7 separate regions of the Homo sapiens genome follow, and all the other regions are reported to be linked to region 1. Evidence: microRNA targets listed by miRTarBase, many of them from high-throughput screens and not tested one by one. Region 1 holds a microRNA gene; each other region holds the end of a gene's coding sequence.

Region 1 (4,075 bases):
GTTCACCCACCAGAGTGATGTGTGGAGTTATGGTGTGTGATGGGGGGTGTTGGGAGGGGTGGGTGAGGAGCCATGGCTGGAGGGAGGATGAGAGCTGGGATGGGGAGAATTACGGGGCCACCTCAGCATGTGAAGGGAGGGAAGGGGCTGCCTGTGCCCCACCTTGCAGGGTCTGTGCACTTCCCAGGATTAGGGAAAGACCGGGTAGGGTCTGTCTCCTGGCATCACATCTCCCCCTGCTACCTGCCATGATGCTAGACTCCTGAGCAGAACCTCTGGCTCAGTACACTAAAGCTCCCTCTGGCCCTCCCACTCCTGACCCTGTCTCTGCCTTAGGTGTGACTGTGTGGGAGCTGATGACTTTTGGGGCCAAACCTTACGATGGGATCCCAGCCCGGGAGATCCCTGACCTGCTGGAAAAGGGGGAGCGGCTGCCCCAGCCCCCCATCTGCACCATTGATGTCTACATGATCATGGTCAAATGTGCGTGGCTGAGCTGTGCTGGCTGCCTGGAGGAGGGTGGGAGGTCCTGGGTGGAGGAGCCCACAAGGGGCATGAAAGGGGACCAGGATGTATGTAGACCCAGGAGCCCTAGTATGTTAGGAGCCTCAAAACCTTCTTGTATCCCTTTTACAGTCAAAGTCCAAAGCCACTCTTGAGGAACACTCTTGTACAAAATTAAGCTGGGCACAGTGGCTCATGCCTGTAATCCCAGTACTTTTGGAGGCTGAGGTGGGAGGATCCCTTGAAGCCAGGAGTTCAAGACCAGCCTGGGCAACATAGTGAGATCCTATCTCTACAAAAAATAAAAAAATTATCTGGGTGTGGTGGTGTGTGCCAGTAGTCCCAGCTACTCAGGAGAGGCTGAGGCAGGAAGATCACTTGAGCCTAGTTTAAGGTTGCAGTAAGCTATGATTGCACCACTGAAATCCAGCCTGGGTGACAGAGCGAAACCTCATCTCAAAAAAATAAAAAAGCAAACAAAAAGAAAAAAAAAATTAAAAGGGAAACTAGAAGAGATGCCAAAGGTTCTGGCTGAAGACCCCAGAGTCTGGTGCTACTTCTCTACCACCTGAGGGCTTTGGGCTGTCCCTTGGGACTGTCTAGACCAGACTGGAGGGGGAGTGGGAGGGGAGAGGCAGCAAGCACACAGGGCCTGGGACTAGCATGCTGACCTCCCTCCTGCCCCAGGTTGGATGATTGACTCTGAATGTCGGCCAAGATTCCGGGAGTTGGTGTCTGAATTCTCCCGCATGGCCAGGGACCCCCAGCGCTTTGTGGTCATCCAGGTACTGGGCCTCTGTGCCCCATCCCTGCCTGTGGCTAAGAGCACCCTCCTGCAGAGGGTGGGAAGGAGAGATGAGTCCAGTATGCCAGGCCCCTCACGGAAGGCTGCATGCTGGGCTGGGGAGGGGCCACCATCCTGCCTCTCCTTCCTCCACAGAATGAGGACTTGGGCCCAGCCAGTCCCTTGGACAGCACCTTCTACCGCTCACTGCTGGAGGACGATGACATGGGGGACCTGGTGGATGCTGAGGAGTATCTGGTACCCCAGCAGGGCTTCTTCTGTCCAGACCCTGCCCCGGGCGCTGGGGGCATGGTCCACCACAGGCACCGCAGCTCATCTACCAGGGTCAGTGCCCTCGGTCACACTGTGTGGCTGTCTGCTTACCTCCCCCAACCCCGGTGGACTAGGGTCCCTTTCTCTGATGTTCCCTCAACTGTCACCTCTCAAGGAAACCCCATTATCCCTACAAAAAATTCTTACTGCCTTCCAACCCCTGTGACCCCATTCTCTCCACGGTGACTGTGTCATACCCCAAAGGTGACCTCTGTTTTTCTCCTGTGACCCTGTCACCTTCCATGGAGTCCCCATCCCAGATCCGTGAGTGACCCCCATCATGACTTTCTTTCTTGTCCCCAGAGTGGCGGTGGGGACCTGACACTAGGGCTGGAGCCCTCTGAAGAGGAGGCCCCCAGGTCTCCACTGGCACCCTCCGAAGGGGCTGGCTCCGATGTATTTGATGGTGACCTGGGAATGGGGGCAGCCAAGGGGCTGCAAAGCCTCCCCACACATGACCCCAGCCCTCTACAGCGGTACAGTGAGGACCCCACAGTACCCCTGCCCTCTGAGACTGATGGCTACGTTGCCCCCCTGACCTGCAGCCCCCAGCCTGGTATGGAGTCCAGTCTAAGCAGAGAGACTGATGGGCAGGGGAGGTGGGACCTTCAGCCCAGGGTCCACTGTGGGGGCAGAGGGAGTGGCAGAGACACCGGGGTTCCTTCCCCTAATGGGTCACCTTCTCTTGACCTTTCAGAATATGTGAACCAGCCAGATGTTCGGCCCCAGCCCCCTTCGCCCCGAGAGGGCCCTCTGCCTGCTGCCCGACCTGCTGGTGCCACTCTGGAAAGGCCCAAGACTCTCTCCCCAGGGAAGAATGGGGTCGTCAAAGACGTTTTTGCCTTTGGGGGTGCCGTGGAGAACCCCGAGTACTTGACACCCCAGGGAGGAGCTGCCCCTCAGCCCCACCCTCCTCCTGCCTTCAGCCCAGCCTTCGACAACCTCTATTACTGGGACCAGGACCCACCAGAGCGGGGGGCTCCACCCAGCACCTTCAAAGGGACACCTACGGCAGAGAACCCAGAGTACCTGGGTCTGGACGTGCCAGTGTGAACCAGAAGGCCAAGTCCGCAGAAGCCCTGATGTGTCCTCAGGGAGCAGGGAAGGCCTGACTTCTGCTGGCATCAAGAGGTGGGAGGGCCCTCCGACCACTTCCAGGGGAACCTGCCATGCCAGGAACCTGTCCTAAGGAACCTTCCTTCCTGCTTGAGTTCCCAGATGGCTGGAAGGGGTCCAGCCTCGTTGGAAGAGGAACAGCACTGGGGAGTCTTTGTGGATTCTGAGGCCCTGCCCAATGAGACTCTAGGGTCCAGTGGATGCCACAGCCCAGCTTGGCCCTTTCCTTCCAGATCCTGGGTACTGAAAGCCTTAGGGAAGCTGGCCTGAGAGGGGAAGCGGCCCTAAGGGAGTGTCTAAGAACAAAAGCGACCCATTCAGAGACTGTCCCTGAAACCTAGTACTGCCCCCCATGAGGAAGGAACAGCAATGGTGTCAGTATCCAGGCTTTGTACAGAGTGCTTTTCTGTTTAGTTTTTACTTTTTTTGTTTTGTTTTTTTAAAGATGAAATAAAGACCCAGGGGGAGAATGGGTGTTGTATGGGGAGGCAAGTGTGGGGGGTCCTTCTCCACACCCACTTTGTCCATTTGCAAATATATTTTGGAAAACAGCTAGGCACCGGCCTATGTCTGGGGGTGGCTCTGTGCCATCCCTTCCTGCTCACCTTACACTCAATTCCTCTTTTCCTGGAGGGAGTGGCTGGGAATCTTCAGAAAGCTTGGATGAGGAGCCAGACATCCAGTTCTCCAGCTTCAGGGTTGGGGGAGATCGGGAAGCTGGATTCAGATCTGAGAGCCCTTTGACGACCAGATCATTCTTATTTAGAACGAACTAATTCCTAAGGCCACTCACCAGAATGGGGTTATTTCCTCCTTGTGAGTGAGGAGAGTGGTGGGTAGGGTGGGGGAAAGACGAGGCAGGGTCTACTGTGGGACTCATTTTCCTTGCCTTGGCTATGCCAGAGGAGCTCACTGACCTAAGGAGTAGCTGTCCAGAAAGCCCACCCAGCCAGCACAGCCACCCTGGCGGTGCAAAGGCTGGGCTGACCGGACTTCTGTGCCCCCCACATTCCCAGACTGGACGTATAAAAACACACACTAGTTAGCATTAGTGTTTGTAGCGCCACTTTACTGCCAATAGCTGACATTGCCCTGGGTTAGGGGAGAATAAATAAAATCTGTGGCATCAGACAGGTATTACCGAGGCGAAGAGTGGACTGGGCTTTCGTGGGCACTTACCCTGGGAAGGGGGTATGAGGTGGCTGGAGAAGTGTTCATGGAGAGTGTCTCTCTCCTGCCCCCAAGGCCACGGAATCTTCTATTCCTTCTTTGTACCCAAAGGGCAAAGTGGAGGCCAGGGTCTCTTTGCTAAGGAGCTAAGTAGGGGAAAGAGGCAGG
Region 2 (4,068 bases), not on the chromosome of region 1:
CAGTCATGACTCATTGCAGCCTCAACTTTCTGGGCTCCCAGGTGATCCTCTTGCCTCCCATGTAGTTGGAGGATCGTGCTAGGACCATGCTAGGCTAATTGTTTTTTTTTTTTTTGTAGAGACAAGGTCTTACTGTGTTGCCCAGGCTAGTCTCAAACTCCTGGGCTCAAGGAATCGTCCCGCCTTGGTCTCCCAAAGTGCTGGGATTACAGGCGTGAGCCACCATGCCCAGCTGTGGCTGGCATTCTTACCAAATTGTCATCTCCTTGAGGCCAGAGACTCTCTTATTTGTCTTTGTAATGCCCTTCCATGTGTGTCACAATGTCCCTACATTAAGTTTTCAATAAATGTTACGTTATTTCAATTGAAATTTATTTTTTGGCCTCTTTTCTCTGCAGGAAAGAGAAGCATGCAACAATTAGATCCCTCACCAGCTCGAAAACTGTTGAAGCTTCAGCTACAGAACCCACCTGCCATACATGGATCTGGATCTGGATCTTGTCAGTGACTTTATGAGAGTTTCTGCCACAAGGTGCCCAAGAGGAGAGGAATGGGAAGAGTGCCCCAGCACGTGGTGACTGCGTGATTTCTGCTCGTTGCCTTTGAAGATAACTGGCAGGACTGACTGTAGAACACTTTGACTTTTTTCAAAAAGTGATGGAATTTGTACATCCAAATGAATATTGTATAGACAATTTTCCCAGGAATGTGCAAAATGCTTGAAAGTTCAAACTTCTTTTTTGAAATGATCTTCAGATCCAGTGGCCCATTCTTTTATCTTTATCCTGTGAAGGTGTTTTTCAGGTTTTGAAACAATCCAAAAATCATTTAGGACCAAGTCTAAGGAAACATTTTAGTGGCCAAGTTGGATTCCGATTGTAAAGGAATGATACTAATTTTCTAGCATGGCTCTGAAGGTGATTTTAGGTAGAAGAGTTTTGAGGCTGGGCGCAATGGCTCACGCCTGTAATCCTAGCATTTTGGGTGACTGAGGCGGGTGGATTGCTTGAGCCCAGAAGTTGAAGACCAGCCTGAGAAATAAGGTGAAACCCTGTCTACAAAAAATACAAAAAGTTAGCTGGGTGTGGTGGCGTGTGCCTGTAGTGCTAGCTACTCAGAAGGCTGAGGTGGGAGGATTGTTTGAGCCCAGGAGGTTGAGGCTGCAGTGAGTTCTAATTGCGCCACTGCACTCCAGCCTGAGCGACAGAGTGAGACACTGTCTTAAAAAAAATTAAAAATTGTAAAAAAATGAAAAAAAAAGTTTTGAGCATTATTTGCATCATTGGGATACATATGTCACTTCACAAGATGTTCAATTTGAAGGAAATACCACTCATTCTCTATGTCCTGTTGTCTGTAGTGTGCTTCAGTTTTTCATATTGAGTTGACCTAAATCCTGGATTCATGACAAGAAAGGAGTAAGTACTACTATTCATTGTTCTATTTGTTTATAATCTGTATTATAAAATTGCACATAATTAAAAGCTTTCCCTTGTCTTCATCTATGTTTTGAGTGTATAAACAAAAAGGGAGTGCCGGGTGCGGTGGCTCACACCTATAATCCCAGCACTTTGGGAGGCCAAGGCGGGCAGATTGCCTGAGCTCAGGAGTTCACGACCAGCTTGGGAAACATGGTGAAACCCTGTCTCTACTAAAAATACAAAAAATTAGCCGGGCGTGGCGGTGTGCACTTGTAGTTCCAGATAGGAGGGTGAGGCAGGAGAATTGCTTGAACCCGGGAGGCGGAGGTTGCAGTGAGCCGAGATCGTGCCCTTGTACTCCAGCCTGGGCGACAGAGTGAGACTGTCTCAAAAAAAAAAAAGAGGGAGGGCTGGGCATGGTGGCTCACACCTGTAATCCCAGCACTTTGGGAGGCCGAGGTAGGTGAATCACTTGAGGTCAGGAGTTCGAGACCACCCTCGCCAACATGGTAACCCATATCTATAAAAAAATAGCCGGGTATGGTGGCACACACCTGTAATCCCAGCTATTTGGGAGCCTTAGGCAGGAGAATCACTTGAACCCGGGAGGCAGAGCTTGTGGTGAGCTGAGATAGTGCCACTGCACTCCTGGGCAGTGCTTTTTCCCGGGCGAAAAGGCGAGACTCCATCTCAAAAAAAAAAAACCAAAAAAACTAGGAGGGTTTAACAGAAAATAGGATTCTTTGCCAAGATGCTGAAGTGAACAGTAGTGTTGAGATATACCTCTGCATTAATTATCAGTAGAACACCAACTAGGCCAGGCACTTCAGGAGGCTGAGGTGAGTGGTCGCTTGAGCCCAGAAGTTTGAGGCCAGCCATGGGCAGCATGCCAAAACTCTGTCTACAAAAAATACAAAAATTAGCTGAGAGTGGTGGTGCATACCTGTATTTCCAGCTACTTGGGAGGCTGAAGTGAGAGGATCAATTGAGCCCGGAAGGCCAAGGCTGCAGCAAGACATGATCACAGAACTACATTCCAGCCTGAGCAACAGAGTGAGACCCTATCTCAAAATTAAAAAAAAAAAAAAAAAAAAAGCCACACACACACAAAAAAACCCACCATCTAATTTATTACTTACGTTTCTTATTCTGGCCAGGCATGGTGGCTCACACCTGTAATCCAGCATTTTGGGAGGCTGAAGTGGAAAGATCACTTGGGGCTAGGAGTTCAAGATCAGCCTAGGCAAGATGGTGAGACCCCTGTCCCTACAAAAAATTTAAAAATTTTTTAAAATTTGATGGTGTGTGCCTGTAGTCCTCATGCCTGTAGTCCCAGCTACTCAGGAGGCTGAGGCGGGAAGATCCCTTGAGCTCAGGAGTTCAAGGCTGCAGCGAGCTATGATTGTGCCTATGCACTCCAGCCTAGACAACAGCAAGACCCTGGCTCAAAAACAAGCTAAATAAATAAATAAATCCAGGCAGTAGTGCCATGGCATGCTCATGGCTCACTGGACCCTCAACCTCCTGAGCTCAAGCAATTCTTCCACCTCAGCCTCCCAAACAGCTGGGACTACAGGTGTGCACCACCACATCTGACTAATTTTTGTTTTGTTTTGTTTGAGACAGAGTCTCCCTCTGTTGCCCAGGCTGGAGTGCAGTGGTGCCATTTTGGCTCACTGCAACCTCTGCCTCCCGGATTTAAGTGATTCTTCTGCCTCAGCCTTGCGAGTAGCTGGGATTCCACACATGCACCACCACACCTGGCTAATTTTTGTATTTTTAGTAGAGATGGGGTTTCACCATGTTGGCCAGGCTGGTCTTGAACTCCTGACCTTAGGTGATCCACCCAACTTAGCCTCCCAAAGTGCTGGGATTACAGGCGTGAGCCACCGTGCCTGGCCTAACTTCTGTACTTTCGTAGGAATGCGGTTTCTCCATGTTGCCCAGGCTGGTCTCAAACTGGACTCAAGATATACACCCACCTCAGCCTCCCAAAATGCTGAGATTACAAGTGTGAGCCACTGTGCTCAGCCAAAATAAAATGTTTCTTATTCTCTGATCCCACTAAAGGGACAAATCCCATTTCAGTTAAACACCCAGTCATAATCTTAAGTCTTAAACCTTGGCGCAAGTGCCAGTTAATGAGAAATGACATCTCCTTGCTTGGACCTACATTTGTTCTTTATTCCTTTATATATTTACCGAGTACCCGCCATATGCCACACACAGTTCTAGGATTGGAGGAGGGAGCAAAGAGCAAAAACACATGGGTTCTCTCTCATGATGCTCAGTTTGCTGACGATACAAGGAACAAGAGAAAACTCTGCAGAAGAGATATTTTAGCTGACATGGGAAAGATGAAGGAGTTAAATGGGGCAAGTATTTCAGGCAAAAGGAGAAGCAATTTTCAAAGGCTTGAGGAGGACAGTGGAGCATGCTGGGACACTTAAAAAAAAAAAAAAGAATAAAGCAGGAGTGCTGGGCACCAGTAGAAGACTGGCCTGAGACAAGTATAATTGAAAGTCATTAGAAGGCTTCAAGAAAGGGCGAGAAGATCAGAACTTTATTTTTAAAAGAGTACTCTAGTTGTGGTGTGGGGAAAAGATAGCAAGGTATGGGTGTGGGAGACCAGTTAGGTTATTGCAGG
Region 3 (4,000 bases), not on the chromosome of region 1:
ATTTCTCTCTTTTACTCCTTCCCTGTCCCAGTGACCTCTTTGCAAATGCCCACTCCCCTTCCATTTTCTGCCATGAGTTGAAACAGCCAAGGCTCCCACCAGATGCAGATCCCCAGTCTTGAACTCTCCAGCCACCAGAATCGTGAGCCAAGTAAATGTCTTTTCTTGATAAACTACCCAGTCCTGGGTATTCTGTTAACAGTAACAGCAAGTGGACTAAGACATTGCCTTTTGGAGGAAGTTACTCAGTATGGTGCTGATGGCCTCTGAATTTAATACCCACATGAGATTTTTGTCTTCCCACTTTGCTGTTTTTCAGATCGCCATGAGGTTATCTCCAAAGAAATATTGGAACTGGACCCATGGGAAAACCAGTGGAATGTTGTAGCCATCAACGTCCTCATGCATGACAGCTATGATGTCTGCCTAGTAGCCAGGATGAATCCCCGAGACCTCATCCCCCCGCCTTCAGATTTGGTGGAAGAAGGCAATGAGCACTAAGGTGACCTTGCTGGAGGACCTCCTGCTGTTCTGCAAACAAGGCCTTCAGAACGGAGAGGGCCCACAGCATCTCTGTCATGCCAGTCATGTGCACTGCATGCGTAGTGGCCTGTGTGTGAAGAAGCAGTGTGTGCTGGGCACTGGGTGGGGAGCATGGGGAGTCTCCCTTCAGGGACTTCCCAGCCTGATAGGGTAAATAAGACACTACAAAGAAGAGGTGATGACGGCCACAGGAGGGGCACAGGGCCACAGGAGAGCAGCAGAGGGAGGGTCTCACTCTGCTGGGGACCCATGAACAGCACTGCCAAGGAGCAGACCTTTTATTGGGTCCCCAAAAGGATGAGGAGGAAGTGGTCCCATGGGTGCAGTCAATGATGAGTTCATGGAAACAGCCAAGCAAGGGCCCAGAGACAGAAAGCTCGTGCCTGTCTGCAGTATCCTGGCTGGGCCAGATTGCCTGGGGCACAGGGTTTGTGGTCAAGGCTGGAAAAGTAGGTTGTAGCTAGATGACCAACGCCTGAAAGAATGAGGAGTTGGACCTGGTCTGTAAGCCAGGGAATTGTCTCAAAATCGTGCATTAAGGGAGACTTCTCTCTGTGCTCTGTTCCAGCTTCAGTCTTATAAACACTGACCATTCTCCTTCAGAATCCCCTTCTACTGAAGCAACGCCACCCAGCAGCAGGGCTAGCTGTACTACCAGCCCCTAACAACCAAGGCACTCAAGCCAGACCACAGTGGCCAAGAATCCTGCCCTGGGCTGACTCTGTCCGGGACAGGGATGTGGGGTTCTGCAGCCTGGTCCACTCCGGGGCTGGCAGGGAGTGTCCTGGAGTGGGCTGACCCAGGCTGCCTTTGCCCACCTCTCAGACACATACAACCATCTGCAGGGTAGTCCTGGCTGAACAGGACTCGCCCAAGCCACCCAAGCCAGGGACAGAGAAGGCTCTGGCTGAGGACAGGGGAAGAAGCATCTCCTCCAGCTGCTGCCAACCCCATGGCCCGGCCTTTGCAATAAAGATGGAGCCACCCACTTCAGCCCACAATTGAGCATAATCAGAAGACAGTCACTCCCAAAATATATGTTAGAAATAACATTTAAATGACACATGGGAAGTCCGTCTATCTTACTTCCCGTCTCTAATTCTGGAAGCACAGTGGATTCAATGAGGGCATCTTCATAGCTCTTCTTCAGCAACTTCTCCAAAGAGTTTCACATTGCACAAGGCTCTTTTGGAAGCAGGAGTGGTCAGTAAATTCAGAGGGAGACAAACCCTAAGTAGAGACAGCTTTCTTTGGTGCTGAGCTGTGTGATTGTGATGACCGCTAGCCTGTGCCCCTAGGTTCCAGCTGCCCACCAGGCAGGACAGGCAGGTCTTGCCAAAACTGGAGCCTGTTGGAAACCTATTTCTGCCACCAAGGAGAGGGACCAGGAGACCCAGCGTAGGTTGGCCCCAAGTAGGCTCAACTCGGGAGGGTGGGGGTCCCGCCTTTCTCTTCGCACTTGTGCCCCAAGTGCACTCACAGTACCTGGCATGTGGGTGACCTCTTGGGTGGCCGGCATGGGGCAGTGTTTCTCAATCAGAGGGCCTGGGCCCCGAGCACGTCCAGGAATCTGAGTTAAAGTGAGCTTACTCTTTCCCCAGTGGATGATCATGATCTGTGCATTCTTTTTCTTGCTACAAAGATGTTCCTCCTAGCTGCTGTGTTGGCTGTCGGCGGCCAGGGTTGAGGACGGCCTCCACAGGGCCTCCACTTCCCTCCATTCCTCTTCACATAGTCACTCCACCTGCTCCACCTGCTTGAAAAGTCCAGAAAGCTGCCGCGTCTCCCTGGCTCAAGGAGGCCTTGTTGGCATGTCATGGCACATCTCCTAGATGTTTTGGGTTCAAGATCTGGGTTCCAGCCCCCGCTCTGCTACTTAGCTAACCATGTGAACTTGGGCAAGATGACCTTTCTAAAGCCTCATTTCCCTCATATGCAGAGTGGGAAGGAAAATATTAATACATACTTTATAGGGTTGGTATGAGGATTAAGTGCTGAGCAAAGTGCCTGTGAAATCCTGAAATAATAAGCATGTTTTAGCTGCCATTATTATCATCACTGTCATTATCATTGCAGTCAGCACTTCCCAAAGCAAGGTGCCCAAAACAGACTCAGTGCTTTAGGGAAGTGGGGCAGATGTGCATATGGCTTGTGACGGTTCTTTCTTTTTTTTTTTTTTTTTGAGACGGAGTCTCTCTCTCTCGCCAGGCTGGAGTGCAGTGCAGTGGCACGATCTCAGCCCACTGCAACCTCCGCCTCCCAGGTTCAAGTGATTCTCCTGCCTCAGCCTCCCAAGTAGCTGGGATTACAGGCGCCCACCACCACACCCAGCTAATTTTTGTATTTTTAGTAGAGACGGGGTTTCACCATGTTGGCCAGGATGGTCTCAATCTCTTGACCTCGTGATCTGCCCGCCTCGGCCTCCCAAAGTGCTGGGATTACAGGCATGAGCCCCTGCACCTGGCTGAGATGGTTCTTAATTTCCCATACCCTGTTGCTTGGCTCCTCCAGTTGGCGGCTGAGAGTTAAGCAAGGGTTTACTCGGATCTGAGGCCCCCGATGCCCTCAATGGACACATTCAGGACCCTGTGGCAGCTCAGCAGAGGCACCTGAGGGTCACGCTAGGTGAGACCATCGCCCGCCTGTGGGAGGCAAGATAAGTGGGTAAACATCATTCCTGTCTAATGCGAGGTCTGGGCAGTGTCCCAGTGGAACTTTCCAGAGAGTGCCAAGGGAGGACCGAGAAGGGGCATGACCTCTGCTGGAGCCAGGAGGGCAGTGACCAGGAGCTGGCTTAGCACTGAAGGGAAGCAGGCATCAAGGGCAGGATTTCTCAAACTTCTTCTGAGGAATCCCCGAGGTCGAAACCGGTGCTTCACAGATTTCAGATGTCTGATCTTGATTTTTCTTTGATTCCATACAACAGATTGCTTGCCTGGGTTAGTGCTTATTTTAAGTTCTTGGTGCTTCTTGTCTGACTTCTGTATTTGCAATTAAAAACAACATGACCCTCCCCACCTGCAGCCAGATATCGTTAGAAATTCAACTTCGAAATATATTCCTATCACTCCTGTTTTCACTTTAATAGAAGGCTGTTGCAGTACTGCATGATGGGCTCTTATAAAACTTCTACTATCTGCTAATTCTTATCTTTGTGACAGGATTGTTTGACACTGAGCAAGGAAACACAATAAGGAAGTAATTTGGATGCTAGGCTGGCAGAAGCCTGCAGCTGTCAACCACAGCCTGCCCCAGTGTGTTCAACACGGTGGCATTGTTCTCCCTGACTTCATAATGAGCAAATGTTTCACATTTGAACTTAAGGAATAAATTTTTACTAATAAAAGATCACTTTCATTTTGTTTTTCACATTGCAGTTCCAGGAGATGCTGAGGGTCCCTTGAGTTGGGGAGTGATGGCCAGGGGACAAGCAGCAGGCCCGGGGCAGGGCTGTGAG
Region 4 (4,075 bases), not on the chromosome of region 1:
GCCCGCCACCATGCCCAGCTAATTTTTTGTATTTTTAGTAGAGACGGAGTTTCACAGTGTTAGCCAGGATGTTCTCAAGCTCCTGACCTCGTGATCCACCTGCCTCGGCCTCCCAAAGTGCTGGGATTACAGGCGTGAGCCACTGCGCCTGGCCTAATTTTTTTTTTTTGAGACGGAGTTTCACTCTTATTGCCCAGGCTGGAGTGCAATGGCGAGATCTCGGCTCACTACAACCTCCGCCTTCCAGGTTCAAGCGATTCTCCTGCCTCAGCCTCCCGAGTAGCTGGGATTACAGGCATGCACCACCATGCCTGGCTACTTTTTTGTATTTTTAGTAGAGATGTGGTTTCTCCATGTTGGTCAAGCTGGTCTCGAACTCCTGACCTCAGGTGATCTGCCCACCTCGGCCTCCCAAAGTGCTGGGATTACAGGCGTGAGCCACCACGCCCAGCCGAGAGTACTAATTTATCAAGAAAAAAAAGCTGGCCACTGGGACTCTAGCCAACTCCCCTGCCTCATACCAGCCTGCTTCTACCTCAATCTTCCCTATTTTGTCCCTGGCCTCCCACCCCTTCTCTGTCTCTGTGCCAGGTGAGAATATAGCCTCCTTCTGTGAGGACAGAAGGAGGCTGTCTAGGAGCCAGGAAGCAGACTCTCACCAGACACCAGATCGGCTTGTGTCTTGATCTTGGACTTACCAGCCTCCAGAACTGTGAGAAATAAATATTTATTGGCTAAGCCATCTGGTCTATGGTATTTTTGTGATGGCAGCACAAACTGACTAAGACAAGGCCTTTATTCCTACTAGTGCCTCTGCATAGAACAGTCCTCCCTTGGCTGGCTCCTTCTCACCATTCATGTCTCAGCTCAGATGCCACTGCTTCAGAGCAGAAGTGAGAAACTGAGGTCCAGAGAGATGAACTGACTTACCCAGACCACACGATGATTCAGTGGCAGATCCAGAATTTAAACTCATGCCTGTTTTACTCCAAAGCTCACTCACTTCACTCCCAAATATTCACTGTCGTATCACTTTAATTCCTTTGTAACACCTAACACCATCTGTAGCTCTCTTGTCTCCAAAATCTACAACGGTAACTAGCACAGAGTGGCACAAAATAAATGGGCAGGAGTTAGAACCTGCCTGTGGCTACTATCACCAGACCACGCAAGGCACCAGAGGCAGCTACCTTCAGCTGAGATGTCTGCTTCATTCTAGCCCAGCTGCTGCCCTGCTCTTCGCCTGGAACAGAAGCTCTTACCCAGCTTCCCATAATGCTCAATGAGGTCCATCTTGGAAAGGAGGTTGATGTGGGGCAGTTCCACGTGCAGCATGGTGGCCAGGGAGGTACACAGTACTGAAATGAACTTGGCAGGGTCTGTGCAGTAGTGAGAATCCACGAGGTGGACGGCAGTCAGCTGGGAGGGAATAGACAGGGTGAGAGTGGCCTGGAGAAACAGGGATCAGCATTCCCTCATGAGAATGAGGGCTTGAGGACAGAGGGGAAGCTTTCCCCATTAGTCTCCTGCCTCTGTTTCTTTCTAATAACCACCCTGGTTTCCTTCTCCCAGGAAATAGGAGTCATTTTTTTTTTCTTACAAGAGGTCTTGCACTGAGCCTCCCAGTGGGCAAGGGGTTTAAATCCCATGGCATCTGACTCCACTCTTTCATTTACTTTTGCCCACCAATTTACAACAATCTCCATGCCACTTTCGACATTAACCCCTTCCATACTTCCAAAATCGCCAAGTTGGCTACTAACACATTTTACACGTGAGGAAACTGAGGTTCAGAGTGATGAACTGACTTATCAACACCACACAGCCAGTCAGTAGCAGAGCCAGATTCTGAACTCATGCCTGTTTTACTCCAAAGCGACCCAGCCCCTACCTCCCTGTGTGACATGGGGGCGTGGCGTCTGTCCTCCCTGTCTCAGTTACTCCATCCGCAAAATGGGCCTCCCCGCCCTGAGACGCACCCTGAGGTCCCACTGCGCCATTTGGGAGAAGATGCTGCGCAAGGCGCCGTGATGCGTGCAGAGCTCCACCTGGCCTGGGCAGTCGAAGAGGAAGTAGTGGCCGCGGAGGGGGTCGAGCTTGGCACGCAGCCAGTCCAGGTTGGCTTCCAGGTACTCCATGCAGTAGAGCAGGCCGCCGTTGGGCCCCAGGCGCAGCGCGTCCATCACGTCGCCCAGCCCCACCAGCTCGCCCACGTCCACGGCACACTCGTACGGCAGCCCCTCGTTGGCCGGGTCCAGGTTCACCACCGCCACGCGCCGGCCCAGCGCGCGCAGGAACTCACTCATGCCCAGGCAGTACGTGGTCTTCCCTGAGCCCGGCGGGCCGATCACCGCCTGCCCGAAGGCCGTGGTCGGAGCGGCCCCTGCCATTGGCGGCCCGCGGCCCGGAGCAGGTCAACTCACAGGGAAAACGGGGCAGGTAGCCGCGCCGGAGACGAGACTGAGGGCGAGGGTCCCAGTACGTATACCTCGTTGGCGGCCAGCGTCACTCGCCTCAGGCGGAACAGCTGAGACCGTGTCGCGCAAAAGGAGATAACAGGCCGATACTAACTAGACTAACTCGACTTCCGGACAGCGTCGGAAACGGCGAGCCAACGAGAGGAAGTCCCGCCCTCACGGCGGGGACGAAGCTAGACGCCGAGGGGCGGGCGGCGCAGCCGCATTTCTCTCGCGGGTAGTGGGTCGAATGTGGGGTCTTTGCGGGAAAATCGCTCTCGGAATTTCTCTAACCTTCAGACTCGAATTAGAAAAGTAAGGGAGCTCCAGTAGTAAACGTCTTTATTCTTCCGTGACGTCGCACACCCAAGCCACCTCCCGCGGACTCTCCGCTGGCAGTCCCACCCAGTGAGGGTAGAGGCGGTGGAGGGCCCACCCAAGGCCGGCTCTTCCAAGCACCACAAATCCTCTCCTCGCCCAGGTCCCTTTCCCCCTTTCTGGCCTTCGTGGGGACACCTTCAGAGTCCCCAAGGAAGGCTGTGCTGATAGCCTCACTCAACCCAGCTTTTCAAAGTTCTGCAGGAGGCAAAGGGCAAGCCCAGAGATTAGGGTTAGAGACCAAAGACAAGCGGTCGTTACCCCTAATATCCAAGGGGAGGGGACGGGAGGGGGCTTTTTGTAAAAATGCCCCTGAGGTATAGAACCGGCAGGCAGGCAGGCTCGGAACAAAACACCCTGAACCAGCCACGAAGACTGCTGCTCCCAGACTCCTTTCTGCTTCAGTGGTAGATGAGGCCAGGGCAGAGGGTTTTCATCATGTAGCTATGAAAGGAAGCCCCCAACCCGGTCAGTCAGGCAATGAGGGGCTGTCTGAAGCACAACTGGAACCCCTCACAAAGGCCATGTCTGTCCGAAACTTCATGCTGGTGGGTGGCTGGCGGCGGAGCAGTGACTCCGTCTGGTCTTGGGGTAGAGGCTCATCATAGATGGTGGAGATGAGCCCCAAGCCATTTCTACGGGGCCTCTTCAGTTGCCCAAATGGCTGTAGCTTCTCTCCATGGTACCTGGATAAAAACGGGCTCTCAGTGAGAAGGCTGCTCTCAAACTCCAGTTAAAGGGGTTGGGAGAGGACGGGGAAGTAGTTACTACATATCTGGTTTGTCCAAAGACAGAGGCTTTAAATCTGGGTCTTTGTTCTCCAGCCCTCTTATCTATCCATTGACAGTGCCAGCAAGAAGGGGCCTCATATAAAATTTTCATTCTGTCACTACAGACTTCCTAATAGTAACCATCAAGTCCAAACTCCTCCAACAAAGGGTATGAATGATCTTGTTAAGCCTTAGGGCTTACTCTTTAAAAAAAAAAAAAAAGTCAGATTTACTTTATTTATTTATTTATTTCTGAGATGGGGTCTCACTATGTCACCCAGGCTGGATTGTAATGGCGTGATCTCGGCTCACTGCAACCTCCACCTCCTGGGTTCAAGCGATTCTCCTGCCTCAGCCTCCAGAGTAGCTGGGACTACAGGCGCATGCCACCATGCCCAGCTAATTTTTTTTTTTTGTGACAGAGTCTTGCTCTGTCACCCAGGCTAGAGTGCAGTGGCGCCATCTTGGCTC
Region 5 (4,075 bases), not on the chromosome of region 1:
TATTTTATTAGAAAATTTCATGTACTTACCAAAATTATAAAATTGAATAATTTGTATTTTCATTCTCCCTAATTGTTACACTAGATGGTAATGTGAAAAGATAGTTAAGTACTACCTCATGTATTTCCTGTTTAGAAAAATTTCAGGAGAATTTAGTTTGTATTTTGCAAGTATATGAAAGCTCCGGTTTTTTACTTTAGATACAAAACAGTTAATATGTAGATTTATGTTAATGGTGTTTTTCAAAAATGTATAACCACCTAGAAACTTTCAATTCGATGTTTATTTCTGGAGTAATGTCTTAGTGTGATTCTAACTCTTTGGAAACAGAAGACTTCTGAAATGACTTTTTAACATCTGTCTTTCCCCACCCTCCGACTATGAACTCCAGGCAAGCAGGGAGCGTATTTATCCTATTCATTTGCATTTCCTAGCACCATGCACTTTAATAGGCAATAAATACATATATGTTGAATTTAACCAAGGTGTACAGTATAATAAAATTCAGTGGTGGCGAATAGCTTAGTAAATCTATTGCCTTTGTTTTTTATCTTTAAGGAAAGAATCAGAGTATATATGAACAGAGTCAAGGAAATAACAGACAAGAAAAAGGCTGGCAAGCTGGACAGAGGTGCAGCTTCAAGATTTGTAAAAAATGCCCTCTGGGAACCAAAATCGAAAAATGCATCAAAAGTTGCCAATAAAGGAAAAAGTAAAAGTTAACTTTTTGGTTTTGATGTACACATATTCAAAAAGTACATCTTCCCCCCCCCCCCCCCCCCCGCAAAATAATTCTGTGGCAGGGCAAGGTTTAAATGTGTTTCTTATTAATATGTAAATTCACAGTAAATATGTAAAGCTAAATACTTTCCTCTCCAAAGATCATTATCTTTATTGATTAGCACTGAGGATTTTAACATTGTGATATATTATATATTTATAATTTACCATCTCTTGATGAGACTCTTATTTCTTTATATAGGTCAGTCTTGCAAGTACCATTTTATAAGCAGCTGTGAAATTTAAGTGAAATGTTCTTTGTAAACATTTGTACTATTTTAAATGAATAATGACCTTATGAAGTATGCTATCTGTAGGCTGAAATTATAGGTACATCTGTTTTCACTATATGATATTAAGAAAGCGTGAAATGACTTAAATGTTCATTTTTTTCTGTATAGATACTTTATCATGTTTTCATGATTTTAGGAATTACTGCTTTGTTGATATTCAAAGTGTGAAACTAAAACTTTATGGTTGTACTTTAATTCTTGGCATGTTGCCTCTATGTCCCATTTAAAATAAAATACATTCTCATTAACTTTAGATGGGAAATAAGGTTGTATGTTGATGGATGAATTTTGGCATGATGACTGTACTCTCAATAAAGGCTGAAAATGTTGTATAACTGACCTGTGTATTTTTATCTTTTGAGTAAATTTGCCTTCCAAATTAGGAAGATAGGTTTTAGAAGTCATCACAAATAGAGAAATTCTTGAGTTTTTGTTCCTGATGCATGGTGTCCACAGTTCTTTTCATCTCATTTTTTTTCAGATTTTTTTTATTTCATGTTTTTGAGGCTGTATCAAGTACATACAAGTGTTTTGGAACAACTTCTTAAGTTACCTAATGCCACTTAAGCAGATGAGAAGTCCAAAGGAGATTACACTGTGTTTGTATTGTGGTTTATTTTTCTGGAATATTAGTTACAGAGAGTACTACATAGTAAACCTTTTTTTAAATGTCTAAGCCCATGAATTTTAATTATATGCCCTTAATGCTTTCAGTGTTTGAATCCATATCATTATGTGTAGGAATGCCAAGTATAGTAAAGTACTTTAATTTTTGAAAAAGGAGTTGTTAAAATTTTCTGTGTGATTAATTCTCCATAAGTAACCTTGAATAAATGGATTTCTTGATTTATGATAGCAGATATTGGAAATGGTCTTAAAATGTAATGGATTTTGTAAAGCATGTTGAACTCTTTCTATGACACATGAAGAGGAAGTCACTGATAGACGCAGAAGGTCTTTTCTGTCTCTGATGTCAGTTTTTGAAGTGGAAGAACATTAGTGAACATTTATAGTTATTTTACTCCTTTTTTTGCCTTTGTCTCCAAATTTCTAGCTATTTTTAAAAATAACCTCTTCATGAGAGAAATGTGTTACTGTTAAGATCAAGTGTAGTGTACCTGTCTTTGTGTTATTTATTGCAAAGAAATTTATTTGGATTTCTGTATATTTTCTAATTTCATAAAAGAAAAACAGCTTAAATGAAAAATGTTATACAATTGCAGAAAATCATTATTGGTTTTAGCTAAGTTATTGGTTTATGAAAGTGCACCTCTACGTTCTGTTAAATTGTGTAACTTTTAAGTGAGTAATTCTTTCATTATTAGGTAGAAATAAAAGTTTGAGTATATTCCATTTTATTATGTATAATTTTAAATACTTAGCACGTAATAAGGAGCTGAATGGCTGTAGTGCATTGGGTTGCTTATTTGCTTGTTGTTTGTTTATTCTTTTGACAAATATACTTAATGACATTTATATTGCCAGATACAGTGCTAGGTGCAACGTTCCAAAGACGATAACTACGGCCTTTATCCTATCTTTATAAGGTGTTAAGAAAAAAATAGTCTTTTTATTCAATTCAGTTTCTCAGAGTTATGGGAAAATTTATGACAAATTGTGCTCATTAACCTTATTCAGAACCATAAAGGGTGATGTGTGTGGTTGATCTATTTGACTATGGTGCAGTTCTTGTTAAAATAGTTTGTTCCACATGATAGTCTGCTCTAAGTTTAGATGTTAATTACATCTTTTATTAATCTCTTTGGGAATTAACAAGTTGGAGAAGTTGCATCTATAGATATTTTTAAGATTAGAATTATAGTCTATTAATCTTGTACTAAATAATGAGATCTTGCATTTTAATATTATTTTAAGTACAAATTTTTTCTTGTTCATAGTTGTAAGGTGGGAAATCCTTTTAGTAAAACAGAATATGTTGAGTGAAAAATTGAAGCTTGAATTATGTTACATTCCTGGAATTAGGAAGTTATGTCAGGTTGATTAGTTTTAAGATACCCTGTAGATTAAAAAATCCTTCTACTTAGCAATTAGAAATGGATTGGCATTATTTCTAAATAAGGTATTTAAAATTGACCAGAAGTGTAGGAAAGACTTCAAAAATGGACAGCGTATTGAATGTAAATACTTTTTTCTTAAGTAGGTCACTGGAGAAAAAGATACTTTAGGAATCACTCAGTTTATCATACAGTTAAATTATAATTTTATTCAATAAGTTACCAGAAATTCTGGCTTTGCAAAGTGACATTAACTAAGAAAGATGTGAACAGTGACTCAGCCTCATGTAATAGCTAAATTTGGTATCTAAAGGGAAGAAAAAGCACTGATGTCTCATTTTCTCCCTTCATAGCATAGTTAGAAAACCTGCTCAGATAAATTCAGTGGCTCTTTTCCTGAATGATCTTGGTAGCAACGTATTTTATATCAATGTGACGTGAACATAATTTACAAATATAAACATCTATCTTTCCCTATATTCTGATCTAAAACTCTCCAGTTTTGGAAATACAAGCCATATTTTGTTCATATATTAGCATTTTATAGTTGTCATTAACAACTATGTTGGCAGAAAGTATACAGGATTTTATAATGGAATTCTGTAGATTTGTTTCATTTGAATAATTTGCTATTATATTACCTGTTAGCGGGCTTTCAAGAAAATGATTTGAATGTTTTTTGGTTTGCATATTCATTTTCCTATCAAAGTGGGTGTACAGCCATAGACTACTCTTTAGAATAGCCACCCTCTGACTTGATGTGCCTTTTTAAAGTGCTTATTTATGGCATAACTTTTTATTATTCCCTCAAGAAGTCTGAGATTATGGCATAATTTTTAACACAGCCAGAAAGATTAGTAAAGTGTTCAGAAAAGAGAGAGCTATAGTGATAGCTATTGGCAATTGAGGTTTAATTTTTAACTTTATATCTCCCAACTCCCTGCCCAGCTAGAAACCTAAAGCCACCAGCTCTGTGTTAGTCATCTG
Region 6 (4,075 bases), not on the chromosome of region 1:
TTTGTAACCCTCTAAAATGTTTTCTAGATTCCAGATCAATTATACAGAGTATGACTGCAACAGAAATGAGGTGTGTTGGCCGCAGCTTCTATATCCATGGACTCAGTATTATCAAGGTAGGGTGAAACAGATTTCTATGACCAATTATGTTATGTCAATTTAAAAAAATTTTTTAAATGATGTCTAAATGTTACAGAAAGCATAAAACATATAGAAACTTAAAAAAAAGTACGGATAATATTGCCACTTGGAAGTGATCACCATTACTGTTTTGGCTTAGTTTATTTCTACCTACACTGTTTTTTTTTTTAGAGAGTCTTGCTCTGACACCCTGGCTGGAGTGCAGTGGCACAATCTCAGCTCACTGCAACCATTGCCTCCTGGGTTCAGACAACTCTCGTGCCTCAGCCTTTGGAGTAGCTGGGATTACAGCACCAATATGCCTGGCTATTTTTGTATTTTTAGTAGAGACGGGGTTTCACTGTGCTGGCCAGGCTGGTCTCGAACTGGCCTCAAGTGATCCGCCCTCCTTGGCCTCCCAAAGTGTTAGGATTACAGGAGTGAGCCACCACACCCAGCCTATACCTACACTGTTATCAAAAGAGTTAAGAAATACTGCTGTTGAATTTTGTCCATTGTTTTTCAGGGGAGCTGCATTCTCAGTGTGTTGCTAAGGGCTTACTGTTGCTGTTGTTCCTCACATTGGCCTTGTTCCTCAGCAACCCCTGGACCAGAATATGCAAAGCCTATAGTTAGACAACCACCTGGCTTTTATTTTTTTGAGATGGAGTTTTGCTCTTGTTGCCCAGGCTGAAGTGATCTCGGCTCACCACAACCTCCTCCTCTTGGGTTCAAGCGATTCTCCTGCCTCAGCCTCCGGAGAACTGGGATTACAGGCATGCACCACCACGCCCGGCTAATTTTGTATTTTTAGTAGAGACAGGGTTCCACCGTATTGGCCAGGCTGCTCTCGAACTCCTGACCTCATGATCCGCCCATCTTGGCCTCCCAAAGTGCTGAGATTACAGGCATGAGCCACCGCACCCGGCCTTTTTTTTTTTTTTTTTTTTTTTGAGGCGGGGTCTCTGTCACCCAGGCTGGAGTGCAGTGCACAATCTCGGCTCACTGCAATCTCTGCCTCCCAAGCAATCCTCCCACCTCAGCCTCTGGTGTAGCTGGGACCACAGATGCTCCACCATGCCTGGCTGTATTTTTGGTAAAGACGGGGTTTCGCCTTGTTGCCCAGGGTGGTCTGTAACTCCTGAGCTCAGATGATCTGCCCACCTCGGCCTCCCAAAGTGCTGGGATCACAGACGTGAGCCACTGCGTCCGGTCCATCTGACTTCTCAAAGACTTTAGACCTTGACTTCAGTGATTTGTTGTAGTCTTGTATGCTTCTCTATAAAATTTTAATAAATGAAATGTCTTATTTTTGTAGAAAATTTTTATTAAGTGCCCTGTGACTTTAATTCATATATGTAGCTATCCAATGCAGAATGAATATTCTCATCGCTGGCCTGAACTGAGTAAAATGCATGAGAAGAACTCAAAAATGTTAGAAATTTTAGCTTATCACAAATTAGTTAAAGTCATAGGAGTTTTATTTATACCAGAGAGAATCAGTCTTTTCTTTAGTTTTTAATACATTCGTGTTGATTGATGTTTCCCATATTCCGTAGAAAGGATTAAGAAATCCTTAAAAATGCATGTAATACAAAAACACAAAATCACTGATGGGGAAAGATATGGGGGCTGCGGGAGGAAAATAATAAGAGAAAAGTAAAACAAAACCAGGGGCACATGTAAGCCCTAAAATACATGCCAGAGGTTGCCTTTAGCAGAAGCAGGCCCCTAATTCATTATTTATTTATTTGTTTTTTGGAGACAGGTTCTCCCTCTGTTGCCCAGGCTGGAGTGCAGTGGCACGATTATAGCTCACTGTAAACTCAGACACCTGGGATCAAGCGATTCTCCCCCAAGTAGCTGGGACTACAGGTGGCACACAGCTACCACGCCTGGCTATTTTTTTTTTTTTTTTTTTTTTTTTTTTTTTTAGTAGATGGGGGTCTCGCTATGTTGCCCAGCCTGGTCTCAAACTCCTGGCTTTAGCGATCCTACCACCTAAGCCTCCCAAAGTGCTGGGATTACCAGCAGGAGCCACTATGCCCAACCAAGACCCCAGTTTACAAAAACCCAAGTATGATTAGCTATAGGAATTATGAAATCTATTCATTAATACAGGAATTATGAAATCTATTCATTAAAAATTAACTGGTTATCAATGAAGGACAGTTTTTCCTAGCTGAGTCTTGACAAATTTCTCCCATGGGCCGTCACATGGGAACAGTCAACCCCACTCAGTGGGGAGAATGGATTTTTTTTTTTTTTTTTTTTTTGAGACTCGGTCTTACTCTGTTACCCAGGCTGGAGAGCTGGAGAGCAGTGGCACAATTACGGCTCACTGCAGCCTCGACCTCCTGAGCTCAAGTGATCCTCCCACCTTAGCCTCCCAAGTAGCTGGGACCACAGGCTTGTACCTGGCTAGTTTTTGTATTTTTTTTTTTTGTAGAGAAGGGGGTCTCCCTATGTTACCCAGGCTGGTCTCGAACTCTTAGGCTCAAGTGATCTACCTGCCTTAGCCTCCCAAAGTGCTGGGATTATAGGTATGAGCTGCTGTGCCCAGCCCTGGAATAGATGTTTTTAGCCACGGTCCTACAGTGGCCACATGGCACATCACCTGTAAGTTTTCTTTGTGTGCCAGGTAACTTAGTTGTTTCAGATGGATTTTCTATGTTATTTAAGCCTAATTTTGAAAAATAATTATTTTCCCTTTTATACTTTTTGATCGAATTCCTAGTGCCTGCTGATACCCAGCACCACATAAAATGTGCTGTTTCATCTTCGCTGCAGAGTTCCTGCCCAGGGGCAATTTCAAATTTTCCTCCAGTCTTAAGTCCATTTTCTTTTTTCTTTTTTTTTTTGAGACGGAGTCTTGCTCTATTGCCCAGGCTGGAGAGCAGTGGCGTGATCTTTGCTCACTGCAAGCTCCGCCTCCCGAGTTCACGCCATTCTCCTGCCTCAGCCTCCTGAGTAGCTGGGACTACAGGCACCCACCACCATGCCCAGCTAATTTTTCGTATTTTTAGTAGAGACGGAGTTTCACTGTGTTAGCCAGGATGGTCTCGATCTCCTGACCTCGTGATCCACCCGCCTCGGCCTCCCAAAGTGCTGGGATTACAGGCATGAGCCACTGCGCCCGGCCTGAGTCCACTTTCAAATAGGGGGATGAGCTAGTCACTGCAGAGGTCCTAAGTTTCTGCATGATGGAAATACCGTGAATTTCAGCATCTGTACTGTGGTGGTGTTGGGCCTTCACCCGACCCCTCTAGGGCTGACTCAGGAATCTGGGTCAGTACTGGACTGACGGAGCTGGGGTCTGAGTCAATTATTGTCTGAACTTCAGCCTTTGAATTCACCTTCACAGTTCTTACTGTATCTTTTTGTTGTTGTTGTTTCTTTTGAAACAGAGTGTCACTCTGTTGCCCAGGCTAGAGTCCAGGGATGCCATTTCAGCTCACTGCAAGCTCCACCTCCCAGGTTCAAGCGATTCTCTTGCCTCAGCCTCCCGAGTAGCTGGGACTACAGGTGCCCACCACCACGCCTAGCTAATTTTTATATTTTTTTAGTAGAGACGGGGTTTTGCCATGTTGGCCAGGCTGGTCTCAAACTCCTGACCTCAAGTGATCCACCTGCCTCAGCCTCCCAAAGTGCAGGGATTACAGGAGTGAGCCAGGGCACCCAGCCTAGTGTAACTAGCTTTGGATTTCAGGTATTTATGGAAAATAAATTTAAAACTTCCAAATGACAGGTAATTTAGCTTGATTTTGTGGGCTTTGTGAGGACGCCTTTTGTACTTAAAAGAAGGAAAAAACTCAGTTTGGCAGAATGGGGTCTGGAGTGTCTATGGTTTTAACTTTTTTAAGTTTATACATTTATGTATGCATTCATGAACTATTTATTGAGTGGCTACTATGTGCTGGGGCTTGGAGATACCACAGTGGCAGAAACAATGTCC
Region 7 (4,075 bases), not on the chromosome of region 1:
TTGTCTTGTGATTTTTTTTTTTTATGAGGCCATCGTTCCATCAGCCAAACGTTCTGCCGAGTGGAGAGGTGGCTATGGGCTTCCAAAATGGTAGCCAAGAGAATACGCGACTATAGGTAGATGGAGTGAGTCTAGTTTTTTTCCCTTTTGCATCTAATTCTTCCTCCTAATTATTTCAGATAATTTGGCAACCTTGTCCCTGGAAATCTGGCACCACTGGGGCTCCTGTCTCTCAGAATTAAAAAAAAAAAAAAATCCAGTCTCTGCACAAGCCTCCCAGTGAGCTGCCACCCAATAGGAGAGACAGATCAAAGCTGCCTTTTCTTAGCAACTGAAGCCTTGCCCAGCCACCGTAGAAGAGATCTCTGCCAAACTCCCTCCTCTTTGAAGAAACACAACAGAGTCCAAGTGAGAAGTAGCTACAGTTTAATACAAACCTGCACCAGAACACAACGTGTCGGGCTGTTTAGTTTTTGCCTCAAACGGTGGCCAAAGCACAGGACCATGTGTCGTCTTGGGGTTGACACAGTCTTAGCACCATGACATTTACAGGGGAGTGGGGAAGTCACCTGGGTGCTGGGGTGCTGGAGGCTCCATCCGACCCCAGGCTGTGCCTGCGCCTCAGCAGCTGGAGGGGGTTTGGGTTTCCTTGTGGTTCTGTGGCTTCTGGGTCAGTATCAGAAAAGCCCTCATCACGACATCGGCTTGACAGAGACCTACTGTGGACTCCTAGCACTACACACACGCACGCACACGCACACACAGTAGCACAATTTTCTGGCAACTTAACCCCACAAACCTAGAGAGCAGCTAAGGCAAGAACAACAGTATTTATTCAGCAAGTACAAGACCAGTTTGAGAGCTGCATTCAGTGCAACCAGAGACCCTTTCGTTCCAACCAGGAGCCAGTGGGGCTGGTGACGAAGCTGGCTGGAGCTCTGCACGGGGCAAGGAGTGCATGGTGGGGGCTGACCGCTCATTTGGCTCCTTGAATCTCTTTCTGATTTCTATCTAGAAGCTCCCGGGCAAGGGTAGGGCCTATGTAGGGACTGGGGGTGGATGAAGCGCATGGCCTACAGTGGACCACTCCAAGACGTGGTTCCCTGGTGCCACGGGTCACACATCTCTCAGGCGGAGGCACTCAGAGAAGGTAAAGCTTTCCTAGCCCAAGCAAGGATGCTCTGCCCAGCTGGCCACCACCGCTGCTGCTGGGCTCTTTGACATCTGCCCAAGGCCCATGACCCAGTGAGGGCTGACAGGGATAGAGATGGTGTGCACTGCACCAGGAGGCGGCGTCATGGTTTCCCCCATCCCTGGTGGCTTTCCCAGGCCTGGGTCCTCACCCCTGTTCCAATGGCTGCCACTTGCCATGAGCCCCTTCGCCACCTCTGCTCCCCGGCTGACCACCTCTGTCCTCTCAGCCCCTGAGTGAGGAAAGGGGGAGTGAAGGGAGAAGTGAGGGTGTGGACGCAGCTCACACTGCACGGTTAGCCCCCAATGGGTGACTAGTCTTGGCTCAAACACAGAATGTGCATGAGGTTGTTTATAAGAAAGATGAGAAAAAAAATCTATCTTCCTGTGCAAAACAAAGCAGGCTGCCTACCAGGAAAGTAAGTCTTCTCATTGGTTAAACTCTCAGGTGGGATCTACAATAGATGTCACCCCAGACCTCCTCTCCACAGGTGGGGTAGATAGCCAAGGTTGGGAGGGTCATCACAGACACTTCTGGGGTCAGAGGACCTGAACTTTCTGGGTCTTAGTTTCCTCATCTGTAAAATGGGAAGAATAATAAGTGCTCCATTGTCATGAGGACTAAGTGAGAGGTCATATACGGAAGTGGTTTGAATACATGAAAAGCACTACAGAGATGTGCAGGGGCTGACTTTTTTGTTTGTCTGTTTTTTGAGATGGAGTCTCACTCTGTCGTCCAGGCTGAAGTGCAGTGGCGTGATCTTGGCTCACTGCAAGCTCCGCCTCCCGGGTTCACGCTATTCTCCTGCCTCAGCCTCCTCAGTAGCTGGGACTACAGGCGCCCGCCACCACGCCTGGGTAATTTTTGTATTTTTAGTAGAGACGGGGTTTCACCGTGTTAGCCAGGATGGTCTCGATCTCCTGACTCCATGATCCACCCGCCTTGGCCTCCCAAAGTGCTGGGATTACAGGCGTGAGCCACCGCACCCGGCCAGGGGCTGACCTTTAACCGAGGGTCCAGAAGCCTCGCGCAAGCCTCGGGGGCTGAAATCACATGTGCAACATGAAGTCACTTCCCACGGGGCAGACCAGGCTTAACAAGGGCAGGCGGCTGGGTCACTTCCCAGATCACTGGAGGTGGAAGGAGACACCCGGCCTCTAGTGTTTCCATGGGAACTTCTGTGGGGCTTTAGAAGCAGGGAGGGCCCACCTGGATGGACAGGGGAGAAGATGAGGCCATGAGCTGGCAAGGGCCTGGTGCCGACCACGGGAGATCACGGCACCTGAGCAGCAATGCGGGTTCGACAGCCAGGTCCTGTGGGCCTGGGGTCTCCCTCTCTGGTGTCTGGCAAGCCCCTCTCCCACTCCTCCTCTCTCAGCAGGCATGAGGCCTCTTGCCAGTCACACAGGAGGAGCGCTGAGTCTCTGTCCAGCAGGAAGAAGTTATAGGAAGCCGTGCGTGTGTGTGTGTGTGTGTGTGTGTGTGTGTGTGTGTGGTGGCAGGTGAAGACAGGGGAAGGCAAGGGGAGTGCTGGGAGTGATCAGGGGCAGAGAGGGGAAAGGACACCTGCTTCCTGAAGGGCTGGCATCTCTGGGGCTAGCATCCCAGGCCCCCTTTTGGAATGTGGGAAACTAGACAAGGAGGGGAGGGGAAGGGGAAAGGGCCAGGGCCTCCCGCAGCCCAGAAGACTGCAGGCGGGGAAAAGAGAGGCCTGTGAGCCCAGCCCCCTCCACCACCCCTGCCCTGTGCTGTCTGGTTGGTGTCAAGTGCAGCGTCTCCTAAGGACCACATCTATTCCTGTCGCTATTCTATGCTAGTGACACAAGCACCGTTATTTTTCACAGGATGCACAAACAAGTCAAACCAAACTACTGCGCAAACCAAACGTGCAAAACAAAACCATTTACACGCGCCTGGCACCAGCCTCGAGCCCCGCCCAGCTACCCTTCTGGGCCTGTGACCCCCCGAGGGTGTGGGCGGGGCGCAGGAGAAGCTGGCGAGGGGCACCAGGAGTCCCAGCCACCCCCATCCCTGCCCCTACACAGGGCCAGAGGTGGGTTGGGGGAGATAGGACGTCCTGGGCATGGCTGGGAAGCTGACATCTGTCTGACTTGGGAAATGTCACCACGGGGCCTAAGGGGTGGGGGAGGAGGCCTTTACTTTGAAACCACATCTGCTAAAGTGCTCTGGGCAACTGGCCAGTCAGCCAGGGGGCAGGGCACTAAAGTCTGGGCTTTCCCAAAGCCAGCGGAGGCAGGAGTGAGAGGAAGGGCTGGCCAGGGCTCTATGCATTGGGCTCTGTGCATAGTGTGGGCTTCCTGGGCCCCAGAAAAGCCCGCCGAGGCCAAGGCAGAAAGGACTACAGCAGGAGGAACACATCTCAAAGTGCCTGTTAGAGTTGGCTCGAAGCACAGTGAATCACTTTGCAGACATAGGGAGGGCTCCGTGGGTCCCGGGGCCCCCCTCGGGTGGTGTGCCACCCAGCCCAGCCTCTCCTGCCCCTGCAGCTTCGGCTGGAGAGTTGCGGGCTGGTGGCGGCGGTGCGTCCTCACTCGGGGGGCTTGGCAATGCCTTTACCAAATGCCACTCGACCTGCCTCCGGGAGGAGCGAGGATCCGAGCTGAAGCTCGCTTTGGAACATGGTCATCGATCTGAGAGCCTGCAGGGAAGGAAGCACAGAGGGTGAGACGGGCTCTTGTGCCTGCTAACAAACCACAGACACCCTCTCCTGGAGGCTCACTGTGTGCATGGCCTGAGTGAATCCTCACAGCCACTCCATCCCATCTTATAGATGAGGAGACAGAGGCTCAGGGAAGTTAAGTGACTTGCCCCATGTTGCAGTGTGTAAGTGGCAGAGCCTGGACTTGGACCCAGGTTTTCCTG

What was found. The annotated mature microRNA hsa-miR-4728-5p reads UGGGAGGGGAGAGGCAGCAAGCA and lies in region 1 at 1,126-1,148, shown strand. An mRNA with a match to its seed (bases 2 to 7 or 8) in the 3' UTR can be bound and repressed. Matches are read on the target gene's strand: a 7mer-m8 pairs with bases 2 to 8, a 7mer-A1 pairs with bases 2 to 7 and ends in A, and an 8mer does both.
Region 2: the mRNA of DSN1 is a reported target of hsa-miR-4728-5p. The part of its 3' UTR that is shown has no 7-base or 8-base seed match.
Region 3: miRTarBase lists KBTBD12 as a target of hsa-miR-4728-5p. Seed matches in the 3' UTR shown: 7mer-A1 at 2,799-2,805, 7mer-A1 at 2,831-2,837, 7mer-A1 at 2,964-2,970 and 7mer-m8 at 3,552-3,558.
Region 4: miRTarBase lists GPATCH3 as a target of hsa-miR-4728-5p. Seed matches in the 3' UTR shown: 7mer-m8 at 3,120-3,126 and 7mer-m8 at 3,110-3,116.
Region 5: the mRNA of C1D is a reported target of hsa-miR-4728-5p. The part of its 3' UTR that is shown has no 7-base or 8-base seed match.
Region 6: miRTarBase lists TCTN2 as a target of hsa-miR-4728-5p. Seed matches in the 3' UTR shown: 7mer-A1 at 1,005-1,011, 7mer-A1 at 1,138-1,144, 7mer-A1 at 1,151-1,157 and 7mer-A1 at 1,290-1,296.
Region 7: the mRNA of DPYSL5 is a reported target of hsa-miR-4728-5p. Seed matches in the 3' UTR shown: 7mer-m8 at 3,627-3,633, 7mer-m8 at 2,836-2,842, 7mer-m8 at 2,390-2,396 and 8mer at 1,703-1,710.

The regions. Positions count from the first base shown.
Region 1 is chr17:39,725,371-39,729,445 of GRCh38, forward strand. MIR4728 (microRNA 4728) reads left to right here and starts at 1,125; the gene lies at 1,125-1,191. ERBB2 (erb-b2 receptor tyrosine kinase 2) reads left to right here. Exons shown (of 27, transcript NM_004448.4): 22 at 1-32; 23 at 337-483; 24 at 1,192-1,289; 25 at 1,445-1,633; 26 at 1,925-2,177; 27 at 2,319-3,288. The coding sequence ends at 2,674. It overlaps MIEN1 (migration and invasion enhancer 1), which reads right to left. Exons shown (of 4, transcript NM_032339.5): 4 at 3,140-4,075. RefSeq lists an enhancer at 933-1,905.
Region 2 is chr20:36,749,228-36,753,295 of GRCh38, reverse strand. It overlaps DSN1 (DSN1 component of MIS12 kinetochore complex), which reads left to right. Exons shown (of 11, transcript NM_001145315.2): 11 at 399-1,501. The coding sequence ends at 508. Among named protein-coding and RNA genes, the nearest start is that of NDRG3, 5.2 kb to the right of the region's middle. RefSeq lists a silencer at 3,883-4,068.
Region 3 is chr3:127,983,778-127,987,777 of GRCh38, forward strand. KBTBD12 (kelch repeat and BTB domain containing 12) reads left to right here. Exons shown (of 6, transcript NM_207335.4): 6 at 320-3,889. The coding sequence ends at 501. Among named protein-coding and RNA genes, the nearest start is that of SEC61A1, 67 kb to the right of the region's middle.
Region 4 is chr1:26,887,707-26,891,781 of GRCh38, forward strand. GPATCH3 (G-patch domain containing 3) reads right to left here. Exons shown (of 7, transcript NM_022078.3): 7 at 2,782-3,520. The coding sequence ends at 3,304. It overlaps GPN2 (GPN-loop GTPase 2), which reads right to left and starts at 2,577. Exons shown (of 5, transcript NM_018066.4): 1 at 1,980-2,577; 2 at 1,263-1,419. The coding sequence starts at 2,390. RefSeq lists enhancers at 1,738-2,615, 1,971-2,140, 2,651-2,920.
Region 5 is chr2:68,039,537-68,043,611 of GRCh38, reverse strand. It overlaps C1D (C1D nuclear receptor corepressor), which reads left to right. Exons shown (of 5, transcript NM_173177.3): 5 at 559-2,482. The coding sequence ends at 723. Among named protein-coding and RNA genes, the nearest start is that of C1D, 21 kb to the left of the region's middle.
Region 6 is chr12:123,706,958-123,711,032 of GRCh38, forward strand. It overlaps TCTN2 (tectonic family member 2), which reads left to right. Exons shown (of 18, transcript NM_024809.5): 17 at 28-116; 18 at 647-1,442. The coding sequence ends at 756. Among named protein-coding and RNA genes, the nearest start is that of ATP6V0A2, 3.4 kb to the right of the region's middle.
Region 7 is chr2:26,946,686-26,950,760 of GRCh38, reverse strand. DPYSL5 (dihydropyrimidinase like 5) reads right to left here. Exons shown (of 13, transcript NM_020134.4): 13 at 410-3,851. The coding sequence ends at 3,766. It overlaps LOC124905979 (a long non-coding RNA gene), which reads left to right. Exons shown (of 3, transcript XR_007086251.1): 3 at 180-246. Among named protein-coding and RNA genes, the nearest start is that of MAPRE3, 22 kb to the left of the region's middle. RefSeq lists an enhancer at 692-1,192.